Linked DNA regions of Homo sapiens. The protein of the gene in region 1 purifies or fractionates together with the protein of each later gene. This does not show direct contact. Each region holds a gene or a part of one and is shown in the gene's direction. Other genes may lie near its edges.

Region 1 (3,098 bases):
AGCCATTGCATTTTTATAATAAAATTTGCAAACATATTTAAAAGCCAACAAACTGTTAATGAATCTCTACATTCTCATCGCCCAGCTTCAACAAGGATCAAGTCCTGGCCATTTGACAGCAGCATTTAAAGGCTCTCCTCTACTGTTACTTGGAAATAGCCACTTTCTCCCAAGGTTTCTTATACTCTATGGCACATCTGACCACCAGTAGCAGGCAGAATGATGTCTTCAACCCCAACACCATCAAAGATGTCCACATCCTAATCCCTGGAACGTAGGAATTAGGTTACATGGCAAAGGGAAATTAAGGTTCCAGATGGGATTAAGGTTGCTATTCGGCTGACTTCACAGAGATTATCATGGATTATTCAGGTGGGTCCAGTGTAGTCACCAGGTCCCTTAATGTGGACATGGGAGGCAGAAGAGGAAGTCTGAGTGATACAGTGTAAGAAATGGCTGATTTTGGCTTTGGAGATGGAGGAAGGGGACCATGAGCCAAAGAACACAGGATGCCTCTAGAAGGTGAAAAAGCAGGGAAAGGGATTTTCCCCTGAGGCCCCCAGAAAGAATCACAGCCCTGCTGACACCTTTATTTTAATCCACTGAGACCTGTTTTAGACTTCTGATCTCCAAAACTGTAAAGTAATAAATCCATGTTGTTGTAAGCCATTCGGTTCATGGTAATTTGTCACTGCAGCAGCAGGAATTAGTCAGTATCTCATAAGGATGGCATCCAGGTCCATTTCCCTAGCTAGATCCAGGGTCTCATGTAGGAGCAGCTCCTCAGATGGGGCCACTTCTGCACCCCAGAACCTCCTGCAGGTTGGGGCCAAGGTGAAGGAGATATGAGGATGCATGAGAAAGGGGTGCTGGGAGGAAACAATCCAGCTCCCAAAAAGAAACAAGTGTTTCTGTTGCTGAGAGAGGCAATTAAGAGAGTGGGACCCCAGGGTGGAGGTCCTTGTGTATAGAGAAGCAGGGCTGGGGAGGCTGGCAACCAGGGATGAGCTGTGAGCCAGGACACCTGGGCCAAGAAGGGGCAGGGAGGTCAAGGAAAGGAGCCAGGGCGGGAGACACCCAGCTTCCTCTGGGACATTCATTCAAGTGACACCTGTTGCCACAGACCACATTAGGAATGAGGGTGGAATGTGGAGGTTTATTGTCTTCACAACCACTAGCCCAGCCTGTTTCTGCTGTCCCCCACCCCACTACCAGGATAAAGGGCTGGCTGTCTTGGGGCTGAGGGAGATCGGGTGCTGAGCAGGATGCAGGGCCGCGTGGCAGGGAGCTGCGCTCCTCTGGGCCTGCTCCTGGTCTGTCTTCATCTCCCAGGTATGGAGGCCGTGATGCCCTTGGGCAGGAGGGACTGGAGGTCCCCCAGGAAACAGGAATTAAGGAAAGGGGTAAAGGCAGGAGGGTACACATTTAGGTCCCTGAGGGAAAAGGAAGAATAGGCATAGGGGAAGCAAAGGGAACTGGGGACTCGGGGACTGGAGACCACTGGTTGCTTTATCTTCCCTTTCCCTCAGGCCTCTTTGCCCGGAGCATCGGTGTTGTGGAGGAGAAAGTTTCCCAAAACTTGGGGACCAACTTGCCTCAGCTCGGACAACCTTCCTCCACTGGCCCCTCTAACTCTGAACATCCGCAGCCCGCTCTGGACCCTAGGTCTAATGACTTGGCAAGGGTTCCTCTGAAGCTCAGCGTGCCTGCATCAGATGGCTTCCCACCTGCAGGAGGTTCTGCAGTGCAGAGGTGGCCTCCATCGTGGGGGCTGCCTGCCATGGATTCCTGGCCCCCTGAGGATCCTTGGCAGATGATGGCTGCTGCGGCTGAGGACCGCCTGGGGGAAGCGCTGCCTGAAGAACTCTCTTACCTCTCCAGTGCTGCGGCCCTCGCTCCGGGCAGTGGCCCTTTGCCTGGGGAGTCTTCTCCCGATGCCACAGGCCTCTCACCCAAGGCTTCACTCCTCCACCAGGACTCGGAGTCCAGACGACTGCCCCGTTCTAATTCACTGGGAGCCGGGGGAAAAATCCTTTCCCAACGCCCTCCCTGGTCTCTCATCCACAGGGTTCTGCCTGATCACCCCTGGGGTACCCTGAATCCCAGTGTGTCCTGGGGAGGTGGAGGCCCTGGGACTGGTTGGGGAACGAGGCCCATGCCACACCCTGAGGGAATCTGGGGTATCAATAATCAACCCCCAGGTACCAGCTGGGGAAATATTAATCGGTATCCAGGAGGCAGCTGGGGAAATATTAATCGGTATCCAGGAGGCAGCTGGGGGAATATTAATCGGTATCCAGGAGGCAGCTGGGGGAATATTCATCTATACCCAGGTATCAATAACCCATTTCCTCCTGGAGTCCTCCGCCCTCCTGGCTCTTCTTGGAACATCCCAGCTGGCTTCCCTAATCCTCCAAGCCCTAGGTTGCAGTGGGGCTAGAGCACGATAGAGGGAAACCCAACATTGGGAGTTAGAGTCCTGCTCCCGCCCCTTGCTGTGTGGGCTCAATCCAGGCCCTGTCAGCATGTTTCCAGCACTATCCCCACTTTTCAGTGCCTCCCCTGCTCATCTCCAATAAAATAAAAGCACTTATGGAATTTGCTTCTCCTTGGTTTCTTTGTTTCTGGGCATAAGCTGAAGTGAGTCTGGGCATAAGCTGAAGTGAGTCTGTTCATTCCTGTTTTCTAGCCATCCCCACGGCCCTCTAGGGGCCCCTGCAGACGCTGTCTTGCTATCCCCATCCTTCACAAAGGATCAGTGCCCAAGTGCTTGAGGGTGGAGCCTCAGTCTCACCCCGGCCAGGTGGGAGAGCTGTTCCAGAATTGTGCTGGAATCTGAAAGGGGGAGGAGGGACAGCAGGACTAATTGAGATGGCACCTGCAGCAGGGGGCAAGGATGAGGTCCCAGAAGGCGGCTCCAGGGCCAGGTGGACAGGATTCCTTGCAACTCACAGAAACAGGAAGCCAAAAGTCGCAATGTCTACGCTTCACTTGTCTTTTCTTCCCCGGAAAGTCAAGCTTCTTGGAAGTGGAGGTACATCGACCTCCTCCCTTACAGGCATCATTTAGCACATTGTGTCCCACAGAACCACAGACTT
Region 2 (3,500 bases), on another chromosome or scaffold:
ATAGAATTTTAAACTCAGAAGATCTTTTTTTTTTTTTTTTTTTTTTTTTTGAGACAGAGTTTCACTCTTGTTGCCCAGGCTGGAGTGCAATGGTGTGATCTCAGCTTACCGCAACCTCTGCCTCCCAGGTTCAAGTGATTCTCCTGCCTCAGCCTCCCGAGTAGCTGGGATTACTGGCATGCGCCACTACGCCTGGCTAATTTTGTATTTTTAGTAGAGATGGGGTTTCTCTATGTTGGTCAGGCTGGTCTCGAGCTCCTGACCTCAGGTGATCCGCCCACCTCAGCCTCCCGAAGTGCTGGGATTACAGGCGTGAGCCACTGCACCTGCCGCCGCCGCCTTTTTATTTTTTTTAAAACGGAGTTTCATTCTTGTTGCCCAGGCTGGAGTGCAATGGCGCAATCTTGGCTCACTGTAACCTCCGCCTCCCGGGTTCAAGTGATTCTCCTGCCTCAGCCTCCCAAGTAGCTGGGATTACAGGCATGCCTGGCTAATTTTGTATTTTTAGTAGACATGGGGTTTCACCACGTTGATCAGGCTGGTCTCAAACTCCTTACCTCAGGTTATCTGCCTGCCTTGGCCTCCCAAAGTTCTGGGATTACAGTCATGAACCACTATGGCCGGCCAGAGCTAGTTTTCTTTACGTTAGAACTGTGAGTTGTCAGTTTCAGAAATTCCAGTCTATGAAAACATCATTGATTACAAACAACAACAAAACCTCAGTAAATTATTGTTACTTTATGTTATTTTCTACCCATGACTGGTAGTGCAAGGTAGTGTAGAATAACTGTTAGCACTGTCTTTAGTAGTGGACATCTTTATTTCAGCTCAAATTTGTGAGAGTGAGAGTTGCATCAATACTCATAATTGAGGCCTACTTGTATATGTCTTCTTCATAGGTTCCTTGTAATGGCTTCAGTGACATTGAGAACCTTGAAGGACCAGAGATTTTTTTTGAGGATGAACTGGTGTGTATCCTAAATATGGAAGGAAGGTAAGCCATAGCTTTAGCAGGGATTTGTTTGCTTTAATAAGTCCAGAGTAAATTGCTGTAATTTCTGTGTGGCTAAACCCTGGAATATGTGATTCCAAATATTTCACGCCTTGTCATAGTTACAGTTTTGAAAAGTTCTGTGTATATTAGGTAGATACACCAAGACAATTGACATATAAAGAAACCTTACAAAAATCCTTTTGGAAAGAAAATGGAATTAATGTTTAGCACTACTATGGGTCAAATACTGTGCCCCAGACCCTTGTATCTGTTGTGTTGTTTAGAAACCTTTTGGTAATAGGCCAGGCACGGTGGCTCACGCCTGTAATCCCAGCACTTTGGGAGGCCGAGATGGGCGGATCACCTGAAGTCAGGAGTTCGCGACCAGCCTGGCCAACGTGGTGAAACCCCATCTCTACTTAAAAAAATACAAAAAATTAGCTGGGTGTGGTGGTACACACCTGTAATCCCAGCTACTCGGGAGGCTGAGGCAGAAGAATCATTTGAACCCGGGAGGTGGAGGTTGCAGTGAGCCGAGATTGCACCATTGCACTCCAGACTGGGGGACAAGAGCAAGACTTCGTCTCATAAAAAAAAGAAACCTTCTGGTAATATAAATCATCCTTCCTTCATTATTACCTCTCCACTTACTATCAGATTTGCCTATCATGAATTGAATCTTTTAATTTAAAAATAATAATTTCTTAGGCATGTCTTAATTTAATGGATGATTTTTTACAATTTCTGAATTGCGGTACAAAATAATCTACTTTGTTCTTTGAACACTGTAGATCTTTGGGTGAGCCTTTCTTTTATCTTCCAGTCAGAAAACTGCGTACTTAGGGACTCACTTGATCAAGAAGAACCCCTTATGTCTTGGTTATTGCTTAAAATTTCATATACCTTTTATTTTCTGCTGTGAAGGTTAATTTCCAGTTTTTCCCTGAAAGATGAGTGGGCTTCCAGCCTAACTTTCCTGTGGAAAAGACTTTCTGTTCTAAAAGTTCTGAAAACTTTCTAGTGATGGAAGATAAGAATGTTAGTTTAACATCTTCCTTAAAAGGAATCTTTGCGAAATATCTCACAAACAAGGCATGAAATATTTATGTTGTTTTTTAAAGGGGATTTAGGAGAGAGAAATATCTATCAGTGGAACAACTGTGGGTAGAGGTAAGATGTGTCACTATTCTAGGCCTTGGATGAGTTCAGATGCAGAGGTCATTTTTCCATTTCTATTTTGGTTTATCTATAAATGAATTGAAGTATGATCTAGTAGTCAGTATTGTGCAGTCTTAAAAATAAAAGCTGACTTGTGTTTTTTAATGTGCATATGTACTTTAAAATACATAAATGGGACCTCATACCTACTTTGTTGGTTGTTTTGGTTTGGTGTTTAGTACAGACCTGGTTTTTCTCTTATTTATGCTGTTTCCTTTTTCCTCCCCATTCCCTCTGTTTACATTGTCCTTTCCTGCCCCCACCTCTGTAATTCTTGATAACAGCCCAGGTTGCATTCTTCTTGCTGACAGTGATGAGTATGGGAAGGGATCATTATTGCACAAAATTGGGATCACATAATAGGTACTTTTCTATATTGTTTTTTCTCATTCAACAGTACCTTATGGAAATCCATCCTCTTCAACGGGTAAAACATCAAAATCACTATTGTTAATGTCTACTTACTCTTTTGTGGTATGTTACATAATTTATTTACTTATTTTTATTTTTTTGAGATGGAATTTCGCTCTTGTAGCCCAGGCTGGAGTGCAATGGCGTGATCTTGGCAACCTCTGCCTCCTGGGTCCAAGAGATTGTCCTGCTTCAGCCTCCTGAGTAGCTGGGATTACAGGTGCCCACCACCACACCCAGCTAATTTTGTATTTTTAGTAGAAACGGTGTTTCTCCCTCTTGGTCAGGCTGGTCTCAAACTCCTGATGTCACGTGATCTGCTGGTCTCGGCTTCCCAGAGTGCTGAGATTATGGGCGTGAGCCACCGTGCCTAGCCTACATAATTTTCCTATAGATGGACAACCACTTTTTTTTCCATTTTGTGTCACTGTGAGGAGTGATGTTTCTAGGCAGTAGAGTCCTGGGAATGGGTTTCCCAGTTCAGACTATAGGATGTTATTGAAAGACATAAAATAGATAGCATGTCCTGGAATGTGAAGACTTGCTATCACAAAAAATGTCAGTTCTCCCCAAATTAATTTATAAACCTAGTGTCATTCCAATTAGGATTCAAACAAAGTATTTTTGTTGGGGGTGGTGAGCAGGGGGGAGTTGTTTTGCTTTTTTCTTTTCTTTCATTTGGATGTCATAAAATATATACAGAAGACTAAATTCACAAGAAGAGCCAGAAAACAATTTTTCAGTAATCATAATGGGAAACTGGCATCACTAGATATTAGGCCATCTTATAAAGCTACTTATAATCCAAACAGCACAGTGATTCAATAAAAATAGCTGCATCAGTAGCAGAGGATAATTGACAAATGCATCCCAGAAT

Evidence for each region.
Region 2: the proteins of C6orf15 (region 1) and FBXO21 purify together in Homo sapiens (affinity purification with mass spectrometry; one large-scale study listed by BioGRID and IntAct). This does not show direct contact.

What each region holds. Positions count from the first base shown.
Region 1 is NC_000006.12:31,110,723-31,113,820, reverse strand, and holds C6orf15 (uncharacterized protein C6orf15 precursor), read left to right. Parts: upstream 1-1,245; 5' UTR 1,246-1,265; coding exon 1,266-1,332; intron 1,333-1,529; coding exon 1,530-2,440; 3' UTR 2,441-2,598; downstream 2,599-3,098.
Region 2 is NC_000012.12:117,183,971-117,187,470, reverse strand, and holds part of FBXO21 (F-box only protein 21), read left to right. Parts: intron 1-899; coding exon 900-994; intron 995-3,500. UniProt on the Homo sapiens protein: Substrate-recognition component of the SCF (SKP1-CUL1-F-box protein)-type E3 ubiquitin ligase complex.